4 separate regions of the Homo sapiens genome follow, and all the other regions are reported to be linked to region 3. The links are microRNA targets in miRTarBase. Many come from high-throughput screens and were not tested one by one. Region 3 holds a microRNA gene; each other region holds the end of a gene's coding sequence.

Region 1 (4,168 bases), not on the chromosome of region 3:
ATCATTGGTAAAGGAAATTTGAAGAGATGACAGTGCCTAAAAGTACAGTTTACATCCTTTTGGAAAGTATGTGTAAGTGCATGTTTTTTGTGCACCTTCTTCTATAGCACTTTTTTACAAATATCTTATTTTTATTTAACGACTTGGGTTCATGTCCCTAATATAAGTATCTTGACAATTATGAGCTTTATACCTAGCAAGCCACTTCAGGAAATTCTTTTGGAGAATATTTTCTGATTATTGTTAAACTTAATATACAATTAGCTTTATTCCTTATAAAATGTCTAAAAGAATAATACGAAGTATATATAAAAGGAATTACTGTAAACTACATTGCCATAGCAATTTACATAAAAGTATATTGTTTTTTATCTTTAACTCAAATAAAGCGTGTAATAAATAAGTTATCTAAATTTCCAGAAGTGAACCTGAAGAATACATGCATTCGACTCCCAACAATTATAGTACATGTGAACCTGCATTCATTTTGGGTTTGTTACCATCATGCATTAGGAGAGTTAGGTTAAAAGATGTCTTTGCCTCTGTGGGGAGCAAAAAAATGCTCCTTTTGCTTATTTTGCATTTCATAAGCCCACCTGGTAGAAGAAGCCTTACTTATCTGCTTGTCTATGTGATTAAAATGTAGTTTCTTAAAATATTAAAATAGCAAATAAATTAATGAAATAAAATTGGTAATAGGGTTTTATGGTTAAAAGTGGGGGATGGGGTAAATTATGCTGCTTTAATTCCAGATGATGTTTTAATAGCCTTATAAATGTTTTTTAAATAACTAGTGAGTAACACTCCACTTACACTTCCAGTAATAAGAATCATTTACTACAAACTATGCTGACTACCTTAGAAAGTCATACAGCATCACAGTGAAAAAGCTAAAGGTACCTGTTGTGCTACATGATTCACCAGTAATTTCTCTGCTTTAAAGGTCTAAAAATTCTCCTTTCCATTTTCCTTCCCTTGATGTTAGGGGCTTAGTTGAGGTTCATGTACTCAAGCTCCTCCACAAGCTGAGGAGCGAAAACTCTGGCCATTTTCATTCCTGCTTTCATTCCCTAAATTGAGGAGCTAAGCTGCTGTTAGGCAAAGAACCTAGCTTTTTCAAGAAACCAACCACTGAATCCCAGCTCTGTCAGGGAAATAAAAAAGTCTCAGCTACTTCCCCAAAATTTTTACATAGATTGAATAAGGGAAGCATACATAGCTCAGCACAGTGGTTGTCACATATTAAAGTCAATAAACGGTGCTATTTTAATATTGATAACAGTGTTTAAACATATTTCAGTGTTTGCTAAAATCTTAGTAATATTAAGTCCTCTGAGGAATGCACTTATAAAGCACACAACTCCAAATCACTAAAGTCATCTGACTGGGAAAGCGGGAAGGGGAAAGAAATTAAGCTTACAGAAAATGCTTTTTTGTACTACAACTAAAACTATAACTAAAACTACTTTTTTGTACTACTATAACTAAAGAGTCATAGGTTAAAAAAAGGTAAAATTAGTCTGAATAAAAAAGACTAAGACTGGTAAATTATTAAATAGCAAGCACATAGTACATATTACGTTCCAAGAACCAATTTGTAACTTATCCTTTGGCAGTGATAGAACAGAACACTTTTACAATTTTTTAATTTCAAATACTGTCATTTTCAAAATACTACTGTCATGGTCTTTCAGATTTCATCTGTTTTTATCAGAACCTGGAAGAGGGAGGGAAGATACATAAGATGATAATGTATGTATCTAGGACTATATCACAGGCTACTTCTACACATGATTTTAAGTAAATCTCCACTTAATTTATAATTAAAATGATTTCACAATAACTGTAAGCTCAAAATATCTGAGACAGCTCTCAAGTCAGTTTAGAAAGTTTATTTTCCCAGGGTTAAGGTGTGCCCATGACACAGCCTCAGGAGGTCCTCACCACATGTGCCCAAGGTGGTTGGGGCACAGCTTGGTTTTACACATTTTAGAGAGACATGAGACATCAATCAGTATGTGTAAGGTGTACATTGGTCTTGAAAGGCAGGACAACTTGAAGAGGGGCGGGGGCTTCAAGCATAGGCAGGTAAGAGAGAAAGGGTTGCATTTTTTTGAGTTTCTGATTAGCCTTTCACTGAATATACAATTTACATGTGAGAGGAGAGTAGAGGAATAGTCAGTTATACCTTAATCTGGCTTAGTGAAACATGAAACAGAGAAAGCAATCATTTATGCATTTGTTTCATGTGAAGACTTTGAGTTCTTTGTCCATAAGGAATTCCCTTGTGAGCAAATTTTATCTTTGTGGCTGTCTTATTTAGGAATAAAATGGGAGGCAGGTTTGCCTCAATCAGTTCCCAGCTTGACTTCCCTTTGGCTTAGTGGTTTTGAGATTTTTCTTTCATATAACCTTAGTATAAAATTCATCCTTGATAGTGTTTATCCCTAAAAGACATTTTCTTCATTCAATTCATTCAAGGTAGAAGATAAAAATCAATGGCTAAATGATGTTGTCTTGCTCTAATACAGTCTGCAGTCTGGTTTGTTCGTTGGCTGAATAAACATGGGAGCTGAGAGCTCTGGAGAAATACAGCCATTTACTGGCTGTGAAATCTCAAGTTAACTACTCTAAAATCGCTTCGATTATGAAATTTAGACAATAATTATTAAAATGTCATTATGAGTTCCTGGTAATACCAAACACCTGTCATTTTACACAAATGCGTTTTGAATGTCTGAAAGACAGCTCCTGCCCTTAATTTAGATGTAAACCATTTAGTTTCAAACTAACCACCTGATAAAATCTATAAACATTTTATCATTAACTAGAGCAGATGTCTGTTATTTGATGTCTATGTTATTTGAGTTTACTGTTTAATAAGTGAATTCATATCAATTAATCCTGCTAACAAATTTGACACTTAAGGTGATTCTGAAAATCCTTTAAACTTAAAGTAGATGGAATCTTAAGTATGGGGCCTTTTAGTGTCCGTAAAGAAAAACTGCATGCAACAAAATATAGCAGGTCCTCACTTGTTGAGATTCATGGAAATTGTGACTTTAAATGAAATGACATGGCTGGGCATGGTGGCTCACACCTGTAATCAGCACTTTGGGAGGCCACGGTGGGTGGATCACGAGGTCAGGAGTTCAAGACCAGCCTGGCCAACATGGTGAAACCCCGACTCTACTAAAGATACAAAAAATTAGCCGAGCATGGTGGTGCACGCCTGTAATGGAGGCTGAGGCAGGAGAATCTCTTGAACCCAGGAGGCAGAGGTTGCAGTGAGTCGAGATTGTGCCATTGCACTCCAGCCTGGGCGACAGGGCAAGACTCTGTCTCAAAAAATAAATAAAAATAAAATGAAATGACGCATAAACCAATTTTTTTTCCTCATCGATGTTACAAACCACTTAAGGAAATGACATCATTCAAGAACATTGTGCTACGTGTCATTTTGCTTAAAGTCAGTTTCTAAGAACCTTTCGATGGCATTTAAGGACTTAACTGTAGTTACAATTGAGTGCTTACTATGTGTCTTGCACCTCTGAATATTTAACGTATTACCTCATTTAATCTTCACAACAACAACTTATGTAGGTAGTAGTATAATCTCGATTTTACTGAAGAGGAAACAAAGGTTAATCTGGCCACGGTCACCTTACTAGTGAGTGGTTGGAACAGATATTTGAGAACAGGCAACATGGCTTCAAAATCTAAGCTCTTGCCTACCCACTAACTACTCCCTTTCAACGAAAGACTAGTAGGTTATTTGAACCTGAATACCCTGAAAGTAACAAGCAAATTTTATAATTTTCTTTCTGTTGTCAGCATATTACAAATTGCAATGAAAATTCTTTGTTTTCCCACCAATTATTTAGAAGATTGTGTTTTCAGAACTTTTATAAAAGCATCTTTTGGAACTTCAACGTTGCCAATTTTCCTCAGCTTTTTTTTCCCTTCTGCTTGTCTCTTCAAAAGCTTCATTTTTCGGGTAATATCACCACCATACTGAAAAATATTTTAAAACATTGGAAGTCTAAGTCACTCTAAAGAGAAACAATCATATGATTACAGCGGCATCAGTACAACCTTAACAACCATACCAAATTATTATCCATAAGGCAGACATCTCTCTAATCTTCCTAGCAGATCTAATTTTACT
Region 2 (4,168 bases), not on the chromosome of region 3:
GGAGGAAACTAAAATTAGGAGAATGTCCCTGAATTTTTTCTTCCTTTGTCTCTGAAAATGCTAAACTGAAAAGTATAACTAAATTGAAGAAAAGCTCAAAGAGAAATCAAGAAAAAATGAGAAAAATAAAGCCTGCAGCATACAAAATGAGTCAGGGCCTTTCAAGCACTAGTAGATTATGAACCCCAAAAGGACTTTTGTACAAGTGTTGAGAAAACAGTATGTCCACTGGGTAATGATAGACAAAAAAACAAAGGGAACCCCAGGAACTCTTTTTAGTTAAATATTTATATAATTAAATAGAATCTTGAGTAATTTTTTCTTTATAAATGTCATTACCTTTGTGAACCAAACAGCTGAATACCTTTGTTTTGATCTATTTTCTTCTAGGCTGATGTAGACCCTCAAAGACCACCAAGGCCAGAAGTAAAAATTACCAGTCCAGAAGAAAATGAAAACAACCAACAAAACAAGGACTATGCTGCCGTGGCTTAGAACATTTTTAAAAAGAGAGTATATGGATCGCAAGAAAAATGAAGGGTTATCATACTTGAAAGATAAGCACATAGTTATTGCTGAATATAATGTGACACTATGGTCGAATACTACCTACGAATTATAACATTAGAAGCCTAGTGGAAAGACCAGATAACTTTAAATGGCTACTAAAGGATAATTACTTACTTTTATTGCATGTGTTTTAAAAGTCATATAGAAATATTAAATAAGACGGACAGAGGAGAATTTGCACTGGAAGACAATTGCCACTTGTAAAGGATGAAAAATAGGATCACTCTTATTGTACGCTTTATTATAAGTTTAGAAGGCAGTTTATTCTAAATAATTTTTCTCTAGGAAGGCGTAGAATTTTAAAGAACTGGTAATAGGAAAGCATGTACTATTTTCTTAAAGCAATAAACTCTTGAATGAACAGATTGCGATTTACTTTCAGACATAATTTGGAGATGGCAGTAGATCAAAATGTGTCCATGACTTGTTAACATGCCTTTCTTTCTTCCTCCTTAGCCAAAATCCACCTTTGAACTACAAAGACAGAGCAAGGCGTTCATTTTGGTGGGAGGAAGCATTGGTTCAGAGTGTTAGTGACTAGTATCGCCATGCCGTCACTTAAATGCTTTCAGGCTTGCATGCTTGTGGCTCCAATGGCGCACACTCAGGAAGGAATTGTAAAGGAGCACCCAGTTATATTATAAAGCCTGGATGTATGGTTTGCAGATAATGGAAATCCTGTGGATTTTCACTGATCCAGTCTATCTTTACCAATAGTATCTCTCTCTTCTCCCTTATGTTATTAGAGAACCTGATATTGGCTATTCCAAAGATTAAATTATTTTCAAATAGTTTTCAACAAAAATAAAAGTGTATTAGGAAGAAAAAAGTAGACTATATGAAGAGTTTGTGACTGCTCAATTTAACTTGTTTTTTGCCTTATTTCTATTAAGACTGTTTTACTATGTTTTTGCCCTAGGGATATCAGCAAATATTTATTTTTCCTAGCATGATATAGTTAGAATTTCAAGCAGATTTCTTTGTAATTAGAAGGCATCTGATAGAAATTGTAAAACTTTAGAAGTTATTATAATGAAACCAATTCCTGAATCACAACTTCATGGACTGACTAAATTGATTTATAGTTGCCTTGTGAGGTATGTATGGGGAAAACATAAAAACATAATTAAAACATAATTTCGTCCTTTTTATGAATTCTTAAGAGATGTTCTTCCATAAATATAGAAATAATATATTTTTCTTAAAGGATATATTTTTAATTATGTGGAAGTTGTAAGCTTGAAATTTTAACTTCTAGTGCTTTTCTAAAATTCACAATTACAAGTTTAAAACATTTTTTCTCTTCCAGGTTTCATTTGGAATAAAGAGTTGGCAGTTATATAAAGCACTTAATAATACTATAGAAAATAGATGTGTTTTTTCTTAATATGATTTTGGTATTTTCCACAGATCAGAAGTGTAAACAGAGAGATAATGTAACAGTATTTGGAAGAGATAATGACACAAGGATATAGTGATCTGGGAGCATGAATTAGAAACAGGGTACTATGTTTCTGGTGTAAAATCTAAATTGTGCTTTCTACTAGCGTTACTTTTTCAAATGGGATGATATAAAGCACTGTGGGCTATAAGCAACAATCTTGGGTTGGTAGGCAAATAGACCAATTGATCTTTATTATTATTATTATTATTATTATTATTATTTTTTGAGATGAAGTCTTGCTCTTGTCGCCCAGGCTGGGTGCAGTGGCATGATCTTGGCTTACTGCAACCTCTGCCTCCTGGGTTCAAGCACCTGAGCCTCCCGAGTAGCTGGGATTACAGGCATCTGCCACCACACCTGGCTAATTTTTGTATTTTTTGTAGAGACAGATGTTTCACCATGTTGGCCAGGCTGGTCTCAAACTCCTGACCTCAGGTGATCCGCCCGCCTTTGCATCCCAAAATGCTGGGATTACAGGTGTGAGCCACAGCACCCGGTCCCAGTTGGTCTTTTAATATTAAATTTGTGCACTATTACTGGGTCTGGAGTTAATGATTTCAAATAGTTTCTAAAAATAACTGATTAAATGTAAGAAATTATAACTAATTATCAAGGTGATTCTCTTTTGTTTCTTCAATGGAGAGTTTCTCTTTCTCTTTTCCTCCTCTAATAAAAATATTTCTTTTTTTCCTGTCCTTTTATTCATTATATTATGAAACTTAGGTTTTAGGAAACACCTTAAGCGTCATTTTAATGAAGCACAACATTGATATTTTACATGAATAATAACGTTTGGTATTTTAAATATACTTCAAGGGGGTAATAAGCCACAATAACTGTACCAAAAAAACTTAAAAATGGGGACATATTCATCCCTTGTGTGTGCATATTTTACCACTTGTTGACAAGATACAATTGTGACCTACTTTGAGGGGATGAATAACGACTTATCACTTTAAGACACTTTGCAAACATGTTACTAAAAAAAGGTGCCTAGCCAAGGAAAAAACCATTCACTTGGAATTAAAATTGTGGATGTCACTTCAGAGATGACTTTAACATAAATGCTGAAAGTTCATTCACCTCACAAATGTGGCAGTTTTCTCTGTGGAGAATGGTGGTCTCCGTGGCAGACTGGCTCTCCAAATTAAATGAAACTCATTGACAGACCTGGGACCTTTTATGTGAGTGGACAGACAAGATCTTGGTTTGGCTTCATGTACTGTTTTCTAGAGAGAGTGCTACGAAAAACTTATGATGCTTTTATGTGATAACCAATATAATGCTTTAATATGTTAATTCTTTGTGATGCTATATACATAGTTTTTATAGTTTTATGAAACCACTTTGTTAAACTTATCTGGATTTTAAGACACTTGTAAACAAATGGTTTGTTAGTAAAATTGGGGCATTAAGAGTTTTACAGAGCAAATAAAGAAGATTTTGACAAAAGTCATTTTGAGGCTAAGGGTGTTTTACCTGGGTTAACTTCTGTTAAAATAGCTATTGAGTGCCCATTGACTTATAAAATACGATACTATGACCATAAAATAACTTTTTACTTCTTATTCTTCTCTATGACCTTAGGATGACTTTATTTTTTTAAGACATTTTTCCTATATGTTTTTGGGGGAATGTTAGGTTGCCACACTCATAGGAAAAGTGTGATGCTATCATGCCTCCTGTTTTATTGTAAAGGTGTGAATTCTTGCTATGTGGTGTGTGAAGACAGAACTATCCCATACATACGTGGTTCAGAGTGAGATATCTCTAGGCTCACAGTTGTGAACCCATATTAATATGGTATTATTCCTGCCAACTCTTCCAATTTATAGCTCATAAACTAACATCCTAAACATTGTCATTGAATGACCTACCTTATACACAAAGGATAAAGTTCATTCACCTAGAAAAAAATCTGTGCATTTAAATTAGTGGCCGCAAGACAACAGGAAGCTTTCTTTCATTTTTTGTTCAACAAACCTTGCAAAAGCAAAGTTTAAAAAGTAGATTAATTCATCAACAGAAAGCATCACATGGAAACTGTGGCCAATCTGAAGAGAAATATAGCATGTAGACATAGATATGTATCAAATACTTATACAGATGCACTCACACACTTTAAAACATTAAAAAGGCCTCCTGAGGCACAGC
Region 3 (4,168 bases):
TGATCTCAAGAGGACCACGATTTGATGTAACTAACAAGCTGCCTGGCTCACTATTTGACTAGAAGGCCCAGGCTTCACATCACTGCATGGCCCTCTAAGAGTATAAGGCCAAGTCCCCAACAGAGCACAGAGGTGCAGATGAGACTCTCCAAGCCATCCTCCCATATGTCAGAGGCTACCCAAGCCCACCTCCATTTGGAAAATTCAAACCTATAATTTGAGGTACCTGGGAAGCCGCTTTCCCAGGGCGGAATGGTCACGGAAACTGGGTAGGCTGGGGGCCTTCTTGGGGAATGAGGGAGTGGAGGAGCTCTTTGTCCCTCCTGCTAGATCAGAAAGAGAAACGTCTCAAGAATCTGGGCCTCCATCTTCTAGGCGTCTCCCTTGGAGGCCCTTCAGGGACCGCCCACAGCGCTTTCTCTCAGCCTCCTCCCCCCCCCCATCCCCTCCCCCACCCGCCCCGTCTCGCGCCCGCCCCGCCCCTCGGCCCGCGGGGTTCCAAGGACGGTTGGTCGCCCCCGCCACAGTCACTCGGCCGCTCAGAGCGGCGGGGCGCACGGGGTCGAGAGAGCCAGCTCTAGGGTTTGGGGCTGGGAACTGAAGCCTGGCGTGAAGGAAGTGGGAGCCCGGGCCGAGGAGGCGAAGGGGAAAGGAAAAGCGAGGGGAACCTGAGCGGGAGGGCCCTGAGAGGAGCGGGAGGCTGCGGGAAGGGGAGGCCTGGCACTCCTGGGGGTCATGGGGGTCGGGGCGCGGCTCCCGGCCTGGGAGGGCGCGGGTCCTCCCCGGCAGCGCCGCCCGCTGGCCCAGCTACGCGTGTTGTGCGCTGCGAGGCCGGCGGGGGTCCCGCTGGGCCCGGGGGTGTCCTCGGGGGCCGCTTGCGCCCAGCCATGGTAGGGCGTCCCCCGGTGAAATGGGGTCCGAGGCGGGCCCCGACCCCGCGTCGGCGCTGCGGACCGTCCGGGAGCTGCAGCCGCGGGTGCCCGGTGCTCGGTTTGTAGGCAGTGTCATTAGCTGATTGTACTGTGGTGGTTACAATCACTAACTCCACTGCCATCAAAACAAGGCACAGCATCACCGCCGCCCGGCCGGGAAGAAGACGCCGGCTCGGGCAGCCCGCAGCCTTCGAGAGAAGATGCCTGAGAAGCGCGGCGTCGGCGTGGGTCCTGCGCAGCCTGCCCCGCGAGCGCCCGCTGCAAGTGCGAGGAAACCCGCGGTTTCTCCAGATACAGTTAAACTGTTAGCTCTCTCTAGGAGTCACAGAAGATGAAACAGTCTCATGCCAGGAAAGCAAAATCCCTGGAGGTGAAGCCCCTCCATCCATGTAACGGTTAATACTGTATGCTGTGATTCACTGTGTCTATTTGCCATCGTCTAGTAGAGTATTCACCAAGCTAGCAACTCAGTTGAGCTCCAACTCAACCAATGAATTGCCTGCCTGTCACAACGTGTTGGGGTACCAACTTGAGACTGCAATTTTTTCTATGAGTCTAGTTACTAGGCAGTGTAGTTAGCTGATTGCTAATAGTACCAATCACTAACCACACGGCCAGGTAAAAAGATTTGGGAATTCGTCCAAATGAGCTGCCTGTGCATCATCAATGTGCGTGGGGAAGAGGGGTGTTGGAAAATGCTGATTTCATCCATTGCCTATTAATTGCTCAGCCAAAAGAAAAAAATCAACATTTCAGCTACTAAGTTTACAATGTATGTAATGTGTATGTATGTGGGGTTTTGTTTTGTTTTTTTTTCAATATTCCTTCAGGCTCTTAACCAAAATTTTAGATATAAGGGGGAATATGATTTTTTTCTTAGCTGACTGATGTATGTTATTATATGAACATGTGATTATTAACTTCTTGAGACTATATTGTTAGTAATATTTTGAAAGTAATATTGTTAGTAATATTTCGAAAGAATAAAGTGCCATAAAGACATAAATTGTGGTTATTGCTATGTGTCCATTTCCTTTGCTAAATTGACTTTATGATGTCCATCTCAGTTCCTGCCACAGTAATCTTAACTTTTCTATCAATGAAGTGGTTAAGTTGTTCCTGCCATGACAAAAATCTCCCGGGAAAGCTACTCATACACACAGACTTGTTAATACTTTTATAAGAAATACATTAACAAAATTTTTCATACTTCTTTTTTCCATGAAGAGACTCTGTTCACTCATTAAGATGTATCCCTTCTTTTAAGTAATCATTTACAACTGTTGGAGTCTATGCAACTTTTAGTGGGAGTGATTAGTAAATGCACTTACACTTTAAATCCAGCTTGTTTCCTAAGATTTAAAGGATTCAGAATTTTAAAATCACAGAAACTGTACACATGGGCACGTATCCGCCCAGTTCAGGCCTCTAGCTCCCAAGGGCTAGGCTTTCAGGCGTGAATTCTCCAGCGCAACGTTCTCAGAACTTCCACCTAGCAGGTGCTGTCCCTGGCAATCTGGTTTGGAAGTGGGGATTGGGGCAATGGGGCTGAGGAATTTAAAGTTTATTTAGCTATCTTTCTGGGGGGAGGGGAGAGGATGTGGCAGCCCACTGAGGATATAAGAAGCTAAACTACTCCCCCACTGACTCCGACAGGACACAACCCAAAGTTGACGTTTTGACTCTCCCATATCCAAGATTTGGACTGGTCCTAAAACCTGATCACCGCAGGGGTGGGCTTCCGACGGCCCCCACGCGCGTGGCGGATCCCAACACCTACCTAGGAAACCGAGGGCAGCCGGCAGGGGCTGGTACCAACTTGGCGGTTCTCGGAGGGGCGGGGCAGGGGCGGGGCGGGGGGAGGGGAGAGGACGCTTGCAGAAGCGTCCTCAGTTGCCATGGAAACGGGACCCAGCGAAGAACCTAGCGGCCGAAAAGAGTCCCAGGAAATGTGCCCCCCGGGATTACTGGTATTTGCTGGCTCCTCGGAACAAGATGCCAACTTGGCTAAGCAGTTCTGGATCTCGGCGTCGATGTATCCCCCTAGCGAATCTCAGCTGGTGCTGCGCAGAGACAGCAGTCAGCGTCTGCCGGTGGCGCGGCCCAGGAGGAGCAGAGGGTCTGGTGAGTAGAATAGCGGCCTCCTGTCAGTCATATCTGCCTCACCGTAACTGGCCTGCAGGTACCAGAGCCCTTTCCAGGAGAAACTGCAATGGTATATACAAATAGTTATAAGTACATACAAATGCATGTATAAATATTTCCTGAACCCTTCCAGCAACCCTTCCACCCGAAAAGGATCAGTGGTATATATGTTACATCTAAAAACATATAAGTTTCCCTTAAATTATGGCATCTATTTGGTAAACAGTATAGAATAATCTGAGGAAATGCTATGTGTTGGCTGAAAGGATAGTTTACATAGTTTAATTCAAACATGAAAAGCCCTGGAGAAAGATGAAGGTGGAGTCAACATTACCAATGAACTTCCTGGACCTGTGAGCCCTTAGTGAGGCCTAGGATGTGGAAACTGTTATGCAATTGTTATAGTATAAAAAATTCAAACGCCTTTAATGTTGTTGACTTTTCCAATGATTTCTTTACTTCCCTTTTGTATTTTTTAGAAAACAGCCACTCCTCGCAGTCTTTTCACCTTGCGAGTAACAGTAAGTACCAAGTTTTATGCCTTTCAACATTCTGACTCCTAGGTTCATCAGAAAATAGACAATAAGTACAAGGGTACTACTTTACACTGTGGTATAACTTTCTGAATTGAACACCTAAGTCCCTGCTCAGGGACCACCCTGTTTATCCAGAGGACAATGCCTAAATTCCTTTAACAGTTTGAACAGGAATGTAGAAATTGGAATCTCTGATCCTGCAGATATGCTCTCTTTCGAGACTTTTTCTTGTCTCTGGACTCGAGCTTACTCATCATCTAAAGAGATTAGAGGTTCCCTGCAGCCATAGCTAATTAACTCAGTCTCCAGTTGTTTGCAAATCTGGTTTGTAAAGTTCCAATACACCACATGTATTTTTGTTTACCTTCCTACTCTATGTATTCCCTTTCAACCCATGTCCAATTTTATATCAATTTTAGTATAAAATCATAATAAAATTATTTCAGATTGAATTTGACTTTATTCCCTCTAGAAAATAGAGACATCTTTGCCGAAGCCCTAAAGATACAGGAATCTGAGGAGAAAGTAAAGTATCTCCAAAAGGTAGGCCAATAT
Region 4 (4,168 bases), not on the chromosome of region 3:
ATAAGATATTTTTATTTCATATTCTATTTTTGGAACATGATATTGTTTTTCTTCACATTGGCGATATAAATTTGCCTTTTAAGGAAAAAAATTAAGGGGGAAATAAAGAAAAGTACTGGATAAATTAGAGTTCAGGTGTCTGAGTATAATGATACAAATCATGCCTGTACATCCATGGAATGAGGCTGGGAGCAGCTCTCCATTTATTCATGCTGCCTCCCTCACTCACGGGACACGCGGGGCTTCATGTGATCATCGTGACACTAAGTTCTGAATCTGCTCTTTATTTATTTCCCTTAGAAATATATAGAAGCAATTATAATGAAAGCCATACTTGCCCTTAGGACCATTGAGGTGTCCTTCTTAAGCATACATTTTATAACTGAAATCAACCCAAGCTAGTAATGGAGTCTTAAAACCTAGAAAAAATATGTAAGTTTATTGCAAAAGATAATATCCCGTTTAAAACAGTTTAGAAATTTACAAAACCTTACATCAGTACATCGTCTTTAAGAAGGTGCTCTATAGATGAGCTGGTATTAAGTTCCAAGGATAGTGAGTATGCATTTATGCATTGCTTTTTAAACTACAGAGAAAGCAGCTACATAAACTCCTGCAATTTAAGTTGATGTATTGGTCTTTTTCCTTTCAATTTTATAAAAGTAATTTTTGCTAAGTTAATATCTCTCCAGCAAACCAGATAACCTCAAGTACAGCATTTCTGTAGAATATCATGGTAGATGTTACGTAATATTTTACAAAGAAGCAGTGATTTTCACATGAATAAGTGAGTATGCAGTTTTGGTATATGTGTGTGTGGTGTTTTAAACATAGAGACGACCATTTTTGTTCATCAGGAAAATGTTTATGGAATCCTATTTCCTCATAATGATTTTAAATATCAATTTTTCAGAAGAGAACTCCTTCCCAGTTTCAGGTCAGTGGCCCAAGCAATGCGGTGTTGTGCTTTGGTGTAGAATCAGTACAGCCTTGTTTGGCTGTATTTCTAGAAATGTCAACATTTTATTTATTTTTTTCTTTTCTTTTCTTTTCTTTTTTTTTTGTTGGGGAAGTGCAGAAAATGTCAACATTTTCTAGTCCCAGTTTTATTTAATTCAGTTAAGGGTTCATGTGAGGGCCTCAACTGGAAACATATCTATGACCACATCAGCTTATTAATTTTGTGTGAGGTACCTCAAACATCTCTTTATCTTCCCAGGCTAACTTTGGCCAGTAATCCAGCTCAGCTCTGAGTCACTCAGCTCACATAATGTGGAACGTGCTAAGAGTTTATAAAGTAGGAAAGCATATGTTCTTATCTGTATTCAAGAATGGACAAACAGGCCGGGAAATTTAAGCCATTTGCCAAAGGCTAGTGGTATAGACTGCTTGGTTGCCTGGATCTCTTAATTCTGGGAACAGGGTTATTTACATTCTAGCATGATGCCCGAGAATATAAATTCACATGAAATTAGCGTAAGCAAAGCAAATTAAGATGGAAGCTCTACTACAAGATAAAATTACATAAGAGGTCCCAAATGATTTCACTTTATTGGATTATCCTCTATTCTGTTCTTTTCCATTGCTGGGGCCAACTGACAGTTGATCGTATGGATACAGGAAAAAAAAAATCTGTGGCTTTTAGCCAGTGGTAGCATATCTTATTGAAATGTGGCTTCTTAAGTATGACAAGTGTATTTATCTTAATTCTAACATGACGTTATATATTCCGGTCTGATTCTGTGGGCTTAAACATTACACTAGAAACAGAACAAGAACATCTTGAATGACATTCCAAGACTTAAATAGTGCAAGCTGATATTCCTTGCCAAATTTCCCTTTCATTCTCACTGAAATAGCTTTGTTCACTGCATCACTATGACAGGGGAAGGTGAAACCATCGGAGTGGTTTGCTCAATTAGGCTCAATTTGCAGTGGGGTAGGTACATCCCACGAACACACAGGATTCTGTGCTCTGCAAAGATTCTAGCTTAGACACTGGATCTTCAGCCAAGGGAATTACAAAATACCTTCTTCGTTTAATGTATGTTTAGTTTCAGGCTCCCTTTCTAGCAATGTCAATCTAACCACATGCTGATAGAGATTTTAATTCAACCAGAAGGAATCTGAGCCTTTCCATCCTACCCCTCATCCACAAGAGTATATAGCAATTACTTAATTATATTACTTTAGTAGTTTGTTCAGCCATGCAAGTTTGACTGGATCCACATGTATGTAGGTCTTGTCAACAGAATGAGCCAGACCTTGAATAACTCAGACTTTGGGATGGAAAGATATTTAAACCTCAAATAGAAAAAACTATATCCTCATCCATAGTCCTGCTAGTTTTTCAATCAGGTGACCATTGTCTGGTCACCAGGAAGGGAGACTGTGTCGATTAATATATGTTTGAACCTATCTACACGGCTGTTTCTGGGATGAAGGGATGAGAAACAGTGTTGTGTTTTATCTTAGCCTTATCTATGTTACTCATAAGATGTAACTGATGGACAGGTTGCTGGATCTCATGATTTTAAATATTGCAGGTAAGTTAACTATGGAGTCTTAAAGTTCACACCAAAAACAGATTCCACCCATTTGCCAGGTGGTCTCAGGCCCTAGGCAGAGAAGAAGCATGATGGTTTAGGGTGGGCCCTGGAACAGCTACAGCTGCTGAAATCCTCTTTGAATTACACTTATCCAGCACAGCCACACCAACAAGTTTATACCCTGGGGTGGCCTGACTCTGCCACAGGCAGAAAGGTGCATGCACCATGAGATGACAGAGCCTTAATTTGGGATCAAGGGGCTAATTAAAAAGGAAAACAACCCAACACACCAGGGTGATCTTGCATAAGCATTTTATGCCCTGCCCACTTCTCTTGTGCTTATTATGTATGCTGATATCTTAGAAAACTGCCAGTTTATCTCATTTTTTTCTATGGTACCTGCTTATAACCTATAACCTCCCTCTACCTTCCGGGTCTGCACAACACTATTTTTTTCTTTTGGGTTTATGAACCCAGGATGGGAAGGAAGTGCTTGGCATCTTGGAGGTGTTGGAAGGTGTAGTGTGGGGTTTTGCTCGTGGTGGGAATCTGGTCTTAAAACTCAGCATGAGTTCTGGCTGAGTGTGACAGGGAACTTGGCAAGCGGTCACTCTAGTGTCCGTGAAGCCCTCAGCAAGCAGTCGCACGCACTCAGGTAAGGATCGTGGTCAGGTGTCCAGCAGCGGCTACATCAGCTCCAAGGCTCTTCTGTTTCACAGGCCAAGGGGCTCACAGCCCAGGGCCTTTGCAAAGAAGCAGGGCAGGCCTTAAGTGCAGTGGATTTCCCATCTCAGGGAAGTGCGTGGAGTTGGGGGGCTGGGGGATGGTCCCAACCAGCTCAGATCCACCAGAAGCATTTCTTTTTCACCTTCTTGGTTTTCCGCCTTAAGTCCTGCTTTTCCGGGGCTGGGGGTTCTGCTGGGGACTTTGGTGGGGGCGATGCCTCCTCAACTGGCTCTGCTTCCTCCAGACTCTGCAAAACTTCATGGAACCTGCCTTCCTGCTGCCGAAAATCATACTCTACACTGAAAAACACAGAGAGGAAGGAAGGAAAGTGAATTCGAATCAGCACAGACTGATTAAGCATCTCTCAGCCCCAACTAATATGGAAGAGCATGAGCTTTGGGATCAAATCCTAGATCCTTAGGTACCTACTGGCTCTTTGACCTTGGGAAAGTGATGCCACCTCTCTGAACCTCTAGTTCTTCAGTGATTGAATTGGCACCTGTAATGCCTTCCTCACAGGGATGTTATTAAGGGTCAGTGAGACCTGATGGCAAGTGTTCTGTAAATATTGGCTCCAGTCTCTCTCTTAATCATTAATGGGGTTTTGGCATGTGTTATGCATGAAAACTGTCTCATTATTAAAAAATTGAGATAATGCAGAGGAACAGACAAGAAAACTGACAGCTCAGTTTCATTATCTGTAAAATGGGGGTAATAAGAGCACCTATCTCAAAGGCTTTCTTTGGAATTAATGTGTGTAAACTGAGATAATATAAATGAAATGCTCAGAGTAGTGCCTGGCGTGCGCTAAGTCCTCCGTATGTGTTAGCTTCTATTACCGCTATCATCATCATCATTAACATAATTTCTACCAATATATTACGTCTTGCTCT

Evidence for each region. The annotated mature microRNA hsa-miR-34c-3p reads AAUCACUAACCACACGGCCAGG and lies in region 3 at 1,530-1,551, shown strand. An mRNA with a match to its seed (bases 2 to 7 or 8) in the 3' UTR can be bound and repressed. Matches are read on the target gene's strand: a 7mer-m8 pairs with bases 2 to 8, a 7mer-A1 pairs with bases 2 to 7 and ends in A, and an 8mer does both.
Region 1: the mRNA of GUF1 is a reported target of hsa-miR-34c-3p. The part of its 3' UTR that is shown has no 7-base or 8-base seed match.
Region 2: the mRNA of DCDC2 is a reported target of hsa-miR-34c-3p. Seed matches in the 3' UTR shown: 7mer-m8 at 2,043-2,049.
Region 4: miRTarBase lists INSYN2B as a target of hsa-miR-34c-3p. Seed matches in the 3' UTR shown: 7mer-m8 at 1,873-1,879.

Annotation. Positions count from the first base shown.
Region 1 is chr4:44,698,390-44,702,557 of GRCh38, reverse strand. GUF1 (GTP binding elongation factor GUF1) reads right to left here. Exons shown (of 17, transcript NM_021927.3): 17 at 1,630-4,014. The coding sequence ends at 3,877. GNPDA2 (glucosamine-6-phosphate deaminase 2) reads left to right here. Exons shown (of 7, transcript NM_138335.3): 7 at 1-763. Among named protein-coding and RNA genes, the nearest start is that of GUF1, 22 kb to the right of the region's middle.
Region 2 is chr6:24,171,057-24,175,224 of GRCh38, reverse strand. DCDC2 (doublecortin domain containing 2) reads left to right here. Exons shown (of 10, transcript NM_016356.5): 10 at 391-3,470. The coding sequence ends at 495. Among named protein-coding and RNA genes, the nearest start is that of NRSN1, 47 kb to the right of the region's middle.
Region 3 is chr11:111,511,955-111,516,122 of GRCh38, forward strand. MIR34C (microRNA 34c) reads left to right here and starts at 1,485; the gene lies at 1,485-1,561. It overlaps BTG4 (BTG anti-proliferation factor 4), which reads right to left and starts at 432. Exons shown (of 5, transcript NM_001367975.1): 1 at 227-432. It overlaps HOATZ (HOATZ cilia and flagella associated protein), which reads left to right and starts at 2,824. Exons shown (of 6, transcript NM_001100388.2): 1 at 2,824-3,056; 2 at 3,557-3,598; 3 at 4,086-4,156. The coding sequence starts at 2,831. It overlaps MIR34BHG (MIR34B and MIR34C host gene), which reads left to right. Exons shown (of 2, transcript NR_147706.1): 2 at 1,064-1,934. It also overlaps MIR34B.
Region 4 is chr5:169,860,886-169,865,053 of GRCh38, forward strand. INSYN2B (inhibitory synaptic factor family member 2B) reads right to left here. Exons shown (of 4, transcript NM_001129891.3): 4 at 418-3,574. The coding sequence ends at 3,388. The region is part of intron 27 of DOCK2 (dedicator of cytokinesis 2); the gene reads left to right. Among named protein-coding and RNA genes, the nearest start is that of INSYN2B, 120 kb to the right of the region's middle.